2 linked regions of the Homo sapiens genome follow. The protein of the gene in region 2 interacts with the protein of the main gene of each other region in a pairwise test. Each region holds a gene or a part of one and is shown on either strand. Other genes may lie near its edges.

Region 1 (4,717 bases), on a different chromosome or scaffold from region 2:
CTTCCCTCGGAGGAGGCCAGTGCCCCCGACGCCCCTGATGCCCTGCCTGACTCTCCCACGCCTGCTACTGGTGGCGAGGTGTCTGCCATCAAGCTGGCTTCTGCCCTGAATGGCAGCAGCAGCTCTCCCGAGGTGGAGGCACCCAGCAGTGAGGATGAGGACACGGCCGAGGCCACCTCAGGCATCTTCACCGACACGTCCAGCGACGGCCTGCAGGCCAGGAGGCCGGATGTGGTGCCAGCCTTCCGCTCTCTGCAGAAGCAGGTGGGGACCCCCGACTCCCTGGACTCCCTGGACATCCCGTCCTCAGCCAGTGATGGTGGCTATGAGGTCTTCAGCCCGTCGGCCACTGGCCCCTCTGGAGGGCAGCCGCGAGCGCTGGACAGTGGCTATGACACCGAGAACTATGAGTCCCCTGAGTTTGTGCTCAAGGAGGCGCAGGAAGGGTGTGAGCCCCAGGCCTTTGCGGAGCTGGCCTCAGAGGGTGAGGGCCCCGGGCCCGAGACACGGCTCTCCACCTCCCTCAGTGGCCTCAACGAGAAGAATCCCTACCGAGACTCTGCCTACTTCTCAGACCTCGAGGCTGAGGCCGAGGCCACCTCAGGCCCAGAGAAGAAGTGCGGCGGGGACCGAGCCCCCGGGCCAGAGCTGGGCCTGCCGAGCACTGGGCAGCCGTCTGAGCAGGTCTGTCTCAGGCCTGGGGTTTCCGGGGAGGCACAAGGCTCTGGCCCCGGGGAGGTGCTGCCCCCACTGCTGCAGCTTGAAGGGTCCTCCCCAGAGCCCAGCACCTGCCCCTCGGGCCTGGTCCCAGAGCCTCCGGAGCCCCAAGGCCCAGCCAAGGTGCGGCCTGGGCCCAGCCCCAGCTGCTCCCAGTTTTTCCTGCTGACCCCGGTTCCGCTGAGATCAGAAGGCAACAGCTCTGAGTTCCAGGGGCCCCCAGGACTGTTGTCAGGGCCGGCCCCACAAAAGCGGATGGGGGGCCCAGGCACCCCCAGAGCCCCACTCCGCCTGGCTCTGCCCGGCCTCCCTGCGGCCTTGGAGGGCCGGCCGGAGGAGGAGGAGGAGGACAGTGAGGACAGCGACGAGTCTGACGAGGAGCTCCGCTGCTACAGCGTCCAGGAGCCTAGCGAGGACAGCGAAGAGGAGGCGCCGGCGGTGCCCGTGGTGGTGGCTGAGAGCCAGAGCGCGCGCAACCTGCGCAGCCTGCTCAAGATGCCCAGCCTGCTGTCCGAGACCTTCTGCGAGGACCTGGAACGCAAGAAGAAGGCCGTGTCCTTCTTCGACGACGTCACCGTCTACCTCTTTGACCAGGTGGGCCGCCGCCACCCGGGGTCTGCCCGGGGCTGGGGGTCGCGCTCCCGCAGGAAGGGGTGGGAGCGGCCGCGGCTCCTGGCGGCCGAGCTACCTGGTGCTCTCTGATTCCTCCAGGAAAGCCCCACCCGGGAGCTCGGGGAGCCCTTCCCGGGCGCCAAGGAATCGCCCCCTACGTTCCTTAGGGGGAGCCCCGGCTCTCCCAGCGCCCCCAACCGGCCGCAGCAGGCTGATGGCTCCCCAAATGGCTCCACAGCGGAAGAGGGTGAGCAGGGGCGGGGCTGGGCCCGTGACGTCACGGGAGGCAGGGCCTGGTCCGTGCTGTGTGGGAGGCGGGGCCTAATGTGTGACATCATGGGAGGAGCACCTGGTCCTTGACGCGTGGGAGGCGGGCTTTGGCCCGTGTCGTCATGGGAGGCGGGTCTGGTACGTGACGTCACGGAAGGCGGGGCCTTGTCCGTGCTGCATGGGAGGCGGGGCCTGGGCCCGTGACATCATGGGAGGCGGGGCCTGGGCCCGTGACATGATGGGAGGCGGGGCCTGGGCCCGTGACTGTGGGAGCGGGGCCGGGCCGGGGTCCCAGGCTGTGAGCGCGAGTGACGCCGCGACCTGGGCTGCAGGTGGTGGGTTCGCGTGGGACGACGACTTCCCGCTGATGACGGCCAAGGCAGCCTTCGCCATGGCCCTAGACCCGGCCGCACCCGCCCCGGCTGCGCCCACGCCCACGCCCGCTCCCTTCTCGCGCTTCACGGTGTCGCCCGCGCCCACGTCCCGCTTCTCCATCACGCACGTGTCTGACTCGGACGCCGAGTCCAAGAGAGGTGAGGCCTGGGCGGGGCTGTGGCAGAAGGGCACGCGGGAGGCAGGGCACGGAGCTCCGAGGGTGGGGCCCCTCCGTCTAGGTCCTGGGCCGGGCCAGCCCCGGCTCCGCTCCGCTCCGCTCCTTCCCGGCCCCGCTCCTTCCCGGCCCCAGACCTAGCCTGGACCCCGCCTGGCCCTCGCCTGGCCCTCACCTGACCCTCACCTGACCCTCACCTGACCCTCACCTGACCCTCACCTGGCCCTCACCTGGCCCCTGCACTCGGCTCTCCTCTGCCTGACCCTACCCCGCAGACCTGCGGCAGGCCCTCTCACCGGAACCTTCCCAGCCAGAAGTCCCTGCAGACCCAGGTCCCACGGTGCCCCGGCCCCACGGTGCCCAGGTGGAGCCCTGCTGGGGGCCTGAGCCACCGCTCCCGGCCATGGCCCTCCACTATCCGCCCCACCCCAGGCTGGGCTCATCTCTGCCAGGTGTCCCTACCCCTACAGCCTCTGCCCACGTGCCTGACAAGTGCCCACCTCCTCGGAGAAGGCCCCCTGCCAGCTTCCTCTTCCCTAGCTGTCCTGGCCTGTGGCTGCAGCCCTGGGGGAAGGGCCTGTCAGCCTCACCCCTGGTGCAGGGTGCCCCCTGTGTGGCTGAACAAGCAGGCAGGTCACCAGGAGGCCACTGCATGACCTTGGCCATCCCCTTCCTGTTCAGGCCTCAGTTTCCTTATGCGTAAAACAGGACTCGGAGGCATTTGCTGAGAGTTGTTGGCCTGAGTCCAGTGACAGGAGTGGGGGAAATGGGTCCATCTCTCACCTAGACACAGCCAGATCTGCTGCAGGGAAGGGGCCCGGCCTGTATGTGGGCCAGGGATGGAGGCCAGGTGGGAGTTGCGGGGGAGGCAGCCCTGGTGTCTCAGAACCCTGTGTTCACTTTGTTGTCCTGCTTGCCAGGACCTGAAGCTGGTGCCGGGGGTGAGAGTAAAGAGGCTTGAGACCTGGGCAGCTCCTGCCCCTCAAGGCTGGCGTCACCGGAGCCCCTGCCAGGCAGCAGCGAGGATGGTGACCGAGAAGGTGGGGACCACGTCCTGGTGGCTGTTGGCAGCAGATTCAGGTGCCTCTGCCCCACGCGGTGTCCTGGAGAAGCCCGTGGGATGAGAGGCCCTGGATGGTAGATCGGCCATGCTCCGCCCCAGAGGCAGAATTCGTCTGGGCTTTTAGGCTTGCTGCTAGCCCCTGGGGGCGCCTGGAGCCACAGTGGGTGTCTGTACACACATACACACTCAAAAGGGGCCAGTGCCCCTGGGCACGGCGGCCCCCACCCTCTGCCCTGCCTGCCTGGCCTCGGAGGACCCGCATGCCCCATCCGGCAGCTCCTCCGGTGTGCTCACAGGACACTTAAACCAGGACGAGGCATGGCCCCGAGACACTGGCAGGTTTGTGAGCCTCTTCCCACCCCCTGTGCCCCCACCCTTGCCTGGTTCCTGGTGGCTCAGGGCAAGGAGTGGCCCTGGGCGCCCGTGTCGGTCCTGTTTCCGCTGCCCTTATCTCAAAGTCCGTGGCTGTTTCCCCTTCACTGACTCAGCTAGACCCGTAAGCCCACCCTTCCCACAGGGAACAGGCTGCTCCCACCTGGGTCCCGCTGTGGCCACGGTGGGCAGCCCAAAAGATCAGGGGTGGAGGGGCTTCCAGGCTGTACTCCTGCCCCGTGGGCCCCGTTCTAGAGGTGCCCTTGGCAGGACCGTGCAGGCAGCTCCCCTCTGTGGGGCAGTATCTGGTCCTGTGCCCCAGCTGCCAAAGGAGAGTGGGGGCCATGCCCCGCAGTCAGTGTTGGGGGGCTCCTACCTACAGGGAGAGGGATGGTGGGGAAGGGGTGGAGCTGGGGGCAGGGCAGCACAGGGAATATTTTTGTAACTAACTAACTGCTGTGGTTGGAGCGAATGGAAGTTGGGTGATTTTAAGTTATTGTTGCCAAAGAGATGTAAAGTTTATTGTTGCTTCGCAGGGGGATTTGTTTTGTGTTTTGTTTGAGGCTTAGAACGCTGGTGCAATGTTTTCTTGTTCCTTGTTTTTTAAGAGAAATGAAGCTAAGACAAAAGAAACCTTTGTGTGTTGTCTTCTGAGGTCTGCCGATGATAAAGTCCTGGACAGGAGGGGCTGTGCCAGGAACCCGATGCCAGCCCTTCCTGGGGCCAGGAGGAAGCTGCCCCTCTCCTCTCCTCCCCACTGTCCTCGGCACACCCCGGTGGAGGGGATGGTGTTCTGGCCCTACTGTGTGTGGGGGCGCAGGGGTAGCGCCCTGCAGGTCTCCCTTCCTGCAGGCCGAGTTGGCCTGGTAGGGACGGGTGAAGAATGGACCTACAGGCCTCTCCAGGACAGCCTCCTCCCTGCCCTTCTGAGGGCAATGTCTGTCTGTCCCTGGGCCCAGGGTGGAAGGCGGAGGCAGGAGAGTTGAGCACAGCTGGGCTTCCCTGCACCCTCCGCTGGCCAGCTCTCAACTGCCCTCCTGGCCCGCCAACTCTACAGCTTCCTGTCCCCGGGGTGTGAGTGGCTGTAGGCGGGAGTGAGCTCTGCTGGAGACACCTCCCCAGCCAGGTAAGGG
Region 2 (7,290 bases):
TTTTTAAAACTATACAGATACACCTGGTAGCAGTTCCAGACAAGCTGTAAAAATGAGACCTTGACAATTAATATTTTAACTTTCCTTTTTCCTTCAGCCCCATCCTGCCACATAGCCATTATATCTGAATCCAAGTGATAAATTCTGTAAGTAGAGGTACTAATTACCTCCTACTGTCTCTCTAAAGGTAAGAATCATAGCAATATGTAAAGCTACCTTTTAAAAAGTTTACATTGAGTTCATCAGGCCCACTGACTATTGAAAATTATACAAATTCTCATAATTGGTACCTTACGGCTGAAAAAAAAGCAACTGAGGAAACTTAAATATTGGCTATAAAGTACTACCATTATACAACGTGCTTATAATTGCTTAAAGTAGTTAAGGAACCACACAGATTAAAGCTCTAAAACAATCTAGATTACTGTATGCGGAAATATTTACTAAAAGAAATATTACTGCACAACGTAAATGGCCAATGCCAACTGTTGAGCACCTATAGTGTCTTCTCTTAAGGCTCCAAATACAACCTCAGATTTGCCAAGATGACCCACAGTATCTAATTTATACTTGGACTACTGGACACTCCATTTATGGTCACCAATCCATAGCCCCCCAAAAAAGACCTTCAGCTCTAAATATCTCTGGAACATTTGGGGGTAATCTAATGAAAGATACCCAATCATAGTAATAACAACTGATACTCATATCAAGCACTACTCTAAATATATTTACATATATTTACTCATTGAATTCTCATCAGAACCCCATGAGGCATGTTCTGTTACACATGAGAAACTGAAGCAAAATCTGTTTCAGTAATGTGTTTGATGTTACAAACTCATCAATGTTAGAGCTGAGGTCTGAACCCAAGTGCCTGGCTCCATATTCTTCTTCCTTTTTATTTATTTATTTATTTTTGAGATGGAGTCTCACTCTGTTGTCCAGGCTGGAGTGCAATGGTGCAATCTCAGCTCACTGCAACCTCTGCCTTCTGGGTTCAAGTGATTCTCCTGCCTCAGCCTCCCGAGTAGCTGGGATTACAGGCGCCCACCACCACGCCCAGCTAATTTTTGTATTTTTAGTAGAGACGGGGTTTTGCCATTTTGGTCAGGCTGGTCTCGAACTCCTGACTTCAGGTGATCCATCCGCCTCGGCCTCCCAAAGTGCTGGGATTACAAGTGTGAGCCACCGCGCCCAGCCCCCATATTCTTTCTACTTACTCACTGTGCTATAAGAACTGAGTCTCTCAGATTTCAAGTACTATGAAATTACCGTATCTCCAGAGATTTTCAGGATCCTTGGCTTATCCACCAGATCACTGACTTCCCAGTGGTAAGAAATAAACACATTTCTACATTCACGTATACATACATATAACCTAAGCCTGGATTCACAGCTGCAATTCTACTGGGTTTATACCAAAACTCCCTGAGGTTGTTATTGAGGTAGTCCCACCTTGTAATAGTCACTGCCCTTCTCACTGTTCCCAGTCTCAAGGAGGGGATGTTCAGTGTCACAATCTCTGCTCTCATTCCCAGTACCTCTACTCATTCATTCAATGGGAATATAACAACTACCTACTGACTATATGTCCAGCAGTGCACTGTGCATTAGCGATACAGAAATGACAAATACAGCTAATCCTTCCAGTAAATTCTCAGCTTAAAGCAGGATTTAGACTAATGTAATCTATTACATTTCAATGTGGCAAGGGCTATGTTAAATGTAGAAGCTGGATGCTTTGGGAGTAACAAGAAAGAAACGTTCAACTCAGACTCTGGAGGTCAGAGGAACTTATCAGAGGAGCTAACATTTTGCACCTTAAGTATTGAAAAAGCAGTAGAAAAGATATTTGCAGGGGGAGAGGGGCGATGTTTTCCAGAGAAAAAGCATTCCACGCACAAAGAAATGAAGTGGAAATGTCCAAGGTGTATTTGAGAACTGCAGTTTTCCATACAGCTGGAAAAGAGAGTTGTTGTGAGTGGGGAGTGAGAGATGAGAAGAGCAACCTGAGCAAGGTTCTCAGTATGAAGGGTTATCTTCCCTGCAGAGAATTTTGGAATTTGCCCTATAGGCAGCAGGCAAATTTTTTAAGGAATTTTAAGTCCAGGAGGGACCTCATAAAAATCATGAACAAATGTGGTTGAATATCTTAGGGACGTGAGAGAGTGTTAGAGACAGCTTCAACACAGTCCAGAATGGGCCCCCAGGAGAGGCATCAAGATATTATAACTATATTTGTTATGACAACATTAATACGAACAAGTGTGTATAGGACAATTGTCCACCTAAAGCTAATTTGAATACCTGAGGATTAGACCTGTGACCTTGGTTACAATGATTCTCTCTCTAAATATTCCTGGGAATGGTATGTAAAAATATAAGAATACAATAAAAGCTCCAAAGTCTTCAAAGCCATGCAGAGTAGAAAAGAAATCTATCCATCCCACTCTAATTTTGCAAGTCTTCAGCAACACTGATAAGGAAAAAGCATTTAACAAGCATTTACCAAGTACCCACAACTTTGCTAACCATTTTCATGAACGAAACCTTTAAAAACTAAAGTCAACAATTAAGGGAAAAAACTAGACCTAAATTAAAATTCTTCATGAGTCAACTAAGAAAAATAACAGTACCATCATCTTATCAACTAAAGTTAATGCAAAAACAAACAAACAAAAAAAAAAACAAAATAAAACAGTAGAATTGCCGTTCTTGACAGGTTTATTGAGGTTTGCATGCTTAAGTTACCTACTAGAAGCATTGTTTTAGATTACTGGAAAACCTGCAAAAGGAAATCTGAATGTGATTCACCTACAACGTCATTAAATTTAGCAAGAATGACTTGAGTCATAACCGCACATGAATATACATTTGCATTCAAATGTAAGAGAAAAGAATTAGGTAATGTAGAGATCTGCTGATTCCCCCAAGTCATCATCACTTTCAACATACTGAAAACATTAAGTTAGAAATATTCAATCTCTTAATCAGAACATTCGGTTCTTTTCAAATCTTTTAACATTAGGGAGTTCAAAGTCAGAGGTGAAATGTAATGAATAGATCACTCCGTTGGGTATATGCAGAGGTCTGTGAATTGTATATATGACCTTGTGCATAATGAGCCCTCCCGGTATGTGGTACACCTACTTGATTAGGGATAGAATTTCAAACTCTGTACTGTTGCTTTTGTGAGTAGAATTAAACTTAATGGCACATGAATGTAAATTTTTATGATTTAATTGTAGTCTTTCACAAGAAATGTCCCTTTCATTTTAAAAAGAAAGGGGGAAAGGATAACAGAAATAGTAGCAATAATTTACGTGAAAATCTAAAGTCATGTCAAGTTAGGCCACTGCTGGTGTTTCTTCTTACAGTCTTTAAAGGAGGAAAGATGTTCTAATTAATAAAGTCAACCTTTGCAGGTACAAGTCCTTTGTGCCTCATTCAGACCTGTAACTACACACAGGGAACATTTTGATCAGTTTTAATTTTCTCAGTGCTAAATCGAATTTGAAGACTGGTTAATACGGATACTCAAGTTATAGAAGGGAGAGTAGACACACCTTTCTGCTGATATGTCACACTGGGAGATATTTTACCGTATCTGACAGTCTGTTTTTTAGTGATGCCACATGAACATGTTAGGGCAGGTACTCTGAATTAACCCCTTTTGTCAGAAGACTTGAATTTTTTTGCAGCAGTTTCCATACATTGAAGACACTTAGAGAGAACTCCAGAGGCGGCGGCCACCGTGAGAGGGTACTGTTGGTGAGTCATTCTCAGGCTACCTACATCCTGCTTCACCTAGAGCAGTGGCACATTTCTCTACTGGGCATATCATCAGTTTCCATTTAAATGAAAGGATCCGTGGCTGAGTATATAAGTAAATAAAAAAATGAAAACCACTGCTTCAGTGGAAAAATACTATAAAATTGTAAAACAGGTTATTAACAGCAAAAGTATTTACCTACAGAAAACCTTACACATGCGATAACCAGATAAATTGAATGTATTTCCAAAATATGGGCAGCTCCATTATAATTTAAACCTGCCTCCAGAAGTCCATCATGCACTCTTTAACTCTTCAAGCCTTATTAGTTGGTTCAACATAAATGTGCAGATTTGAGATTCAAAACCAGCATTAAAACAACAAAAAACAAAAACAAAGAAAATACAAAGTTGATAACATTTAACCAATTTGGATAAGGCTTGAAGAGCAAAGGAAGATTCCACATGTTAGTTAAATATTTAAAAGATCTGGTCATAAGTTCTTGATAATTGGGAAACATTACAAAATACAGCATTTCTCCAAATTCAGTCATTTGCTGTCCAGCCTTCATGACTGTGGTTATTTAGGCCATATTCTTGTTCACTGTTACTTAATACGTTTCTTCAGATACTTAATTTTTTTTCTTTGACTTCAATACTTTGTTTGGTCTTGTCTCAAACAATATTGCCCATGAAGTTACAGGTTTAATACAAAATTTAACAAATTTTTCTAATATCTAGTTATCCTTACATAAAATATAAGTATTATTAAAACAAAATGTTCAGGTACCACCTAAAAATGGTGGTATATGACTGATGGAAGCAAGAGCCCAGCACACGCTTAAGGATAAGGGTGCTGGCCTCATACTGGGGAGTTAGGATCCTGGCTCCACTGTGCTGCATGACTGGGTCTCAGCTTCCTTATCTGTAAAATAGGAATAACAAAAGTACCTAATTTACGGCATAGTTAAGAAGATTAAAATTAGCTAATCCATATAAATGCTTAAAACAGTGTTTTGCACGAAATTCCTGAGTAAATGCTAGCTATGATGTTATGATGGTGATAGTGATTAATATTATAGTAATAATGACAGCCAAATTGTAATTATCTAAAGACTACAGTGACCACTTTTATTTAAAAATACACTTTAGGATATAAATATACTCAAGAAAATATGCTCTCATATTTGACATCTACATTAATATATGCCTTGGTGATACAAAAGCTATTCCACATTGGTTTAACGCAATTTCACTTTGAAAATATTCATGTGATAATAGGAATCAGACTTTGCCTAAAAATTATAACCTAAATAAACTACCTGTGCAGAAAAAAAAAAACTAAAAAATTCTAACACGATAGAACATATAGGTCTTTCTCCTACTGTCCAAAAGTACGTTAAAATAAATTTACTTACTGTATGTAAATAAAAGCTTTAAAAATATGAACATACTGTATTAAAACATTTCATATTGGAAAAAAATGAGAATTTCTGGTATTTTAGAATGGTGTCTTTCTTCATCATCCATGCACTGAAATCTCAGGGTAAGAAAAGGGCCAGACCAACTCTGAAAGGTTTCAAATATCAAACTATACTATTGTGTCAGTACCCTAAGATCAATTAGCACCTTTCAATGACAAAAAAGGTTACAGTGAGACTCAGAGGTGCACTCTCTGAAACTGTCTCAAATCACTATATAAATGTGGTTTTGATAACACAAAATGGTTTCTATTTTAAATTAATCAGTTTCATCTCTTTTTCTGGAGGTGTGAAAGGGGTTAGGGGAGTAAGAATAGTAGTGTTCATTTTCAGTATCTCTTTACTAATAAAAAGATGGATGGAGAAACACTAAGAATGACAAATTTCAAGCGTAAAATGACATATCACCAAAGCATATATTAATGTACAGCTCCACAAGCAATATTGAGTGACAGTAATGTTTACAAAGTCTTCAAACCTCTTAAAAGCAATCAAAGTTGCTTGTACTTCTTTTGAATGTGTAACTCTTGTTCATTTTCTTCCACTTAAGTTCAAGCTAAATGACGCCAAGTTTGGCTCCAAAAATGATTTAATGACTATGCAGTGTCCCCTTCATTAAAACACATCTAACTATAAGATGCAGCATTACACATATTGCATCTCACCCATCTCCAGGGCAAATGCCTGAAACAGCATGTCATTTCTTAGTTTAGCAGGAAAAATTCATGAGAGAAGCAGGTACACTGCAATGCCACCCCATTCCCCTGGTGTTGATTTCCTTCACCTAGTAACCATTGTAATAAAATCCCCCAACTGTATTTCTGAATATAATTAGTTTAAGATACTCTACAGGGAGGCACGTTATAAGAGTTTAGCATTTAGTACATGTAAGAATAATATCCATTTAGAAAAAGAAACTGTCAAGATTATATTCTCACTGAAAAAAGAAGAAGGTGTTTTGATAGAGGTTTGTTCAGCTCTTCAATGAGAGGATTCAAAACGTCTCCTACTTTTGATAGCACACTTTTCTATTTATTTCTTAAATAAGTGATCTGAAATATTTACAACCAGACAGTACCTAATTTTAGGTTTTAAGTGCTTTAACAGCTCCATGAAATATGATCAGCAGCTGCAATACAGAACTATGGTGAATAAACTCCTTATAAAGAGGGGCCTGTTTTTACAGAATGTCCAGTGTTCTTGCATTTACCTAACAGAAAAAAATGATAATGAGAAAGCATAATACATACTTGCATTCTTAAATTACTTAACACTTAACTAAGTAGTGAAAAAGATTATCACCCCTCTTCTTGAAATCTGTATAAAAACTGTGAGTTTTTGTGGGGCAAAATAAGTTTGATTATTTGAAAGTTAGAATGTGAACTTCCTAACATTCTAACTTTTTATAACAATAGTCATCGTCTTTCTGTCATTCTATCTTTCTAAAAATCCTAAAAAATCTAATTCCAGTGCATAAAATGTTAAAATGAAATATCAAGCCATATAAATATATTTTTAGACACGACATCAGTCATTTAGAGCTTGCAACAGAGACTGAAAACATGAAATTGGATACTCTATTTCCCGTGGCTATGTAAAATTTATTTACACCCCAAAGTACAACATAAATAAAAAGGAAACTCTTAGAAATGGAGTACTTGTTTTTCCTTTTTTTTTTTTAACCCAAAGAGCCTTATTAAAAGAAAAAAATAAATTATAGCAAAATGACAAGTAACTCATCTGCCAGTCACCCGTCAAAAAAGAAACTTCTATGCAATTTTTTTCTCCAGCTTCTAGAAACCCTCTGAAATTCAGCATCTATTTTTCTTAACAATTAATAATTATTATTCCTTTTTATACAATCACTCCTTTTTATACAAATCTTAAGATTTTAAAAATTTTAAAACTTAAGCCTACTACTTAAAAGAAGTGTTAATTGTGAGTACATACATATATGTGAGACGTTTTATTTTGGAAATGAGAAATTCAATTTCAAATATTCAACAAATACTAATAAAAAGAAAACAACTGAGTA

The links.
Region 1: the proteins of EYA4 (region 2) and AATK interact in a two-hybrid assay, tested with the Homo sapiens proteins (one study listed by BioGRID and IntAct).

What each region holds. Positions count from the first base shown.
Region 1 is NC_000017.11:81,116,795-81,121,511, reverse strand, and holds the end of AATK (serine/threonine-protein kinase LMTK1), read left to right. Parts: coding exon 1-1,311; intron 1,312-1,428; coding exon 1,429-1,576; intron 1,577-1,931; coding exon 1,932-2,132; intron 2,133-3,069; coding exon 3,070-3,110; 3' UTR 3,111-4,217; downstream 4,218-4,717. UniProt on the Homo sapiens protein: May be involved in neuronal differentiation.
Region 2 is NC_000006.12:133,244,273-133,251,562, reverse strand, and holds part of EYA4 (protein phosphatase EYA4), read right to left. Parts: intron 1-7,290. UniProt on the Homo sapiens protein: Tyrosine phosphatase that specifically dephosphorylates 'Tyr-142' of histone H2AX (H2AXY142ph). 'Tyr-142' phosphorylation of histone H2AX plays a central role in DNA repair and acts as a mark that distinguishes between apoptotic and repair responses to genotoxic stress.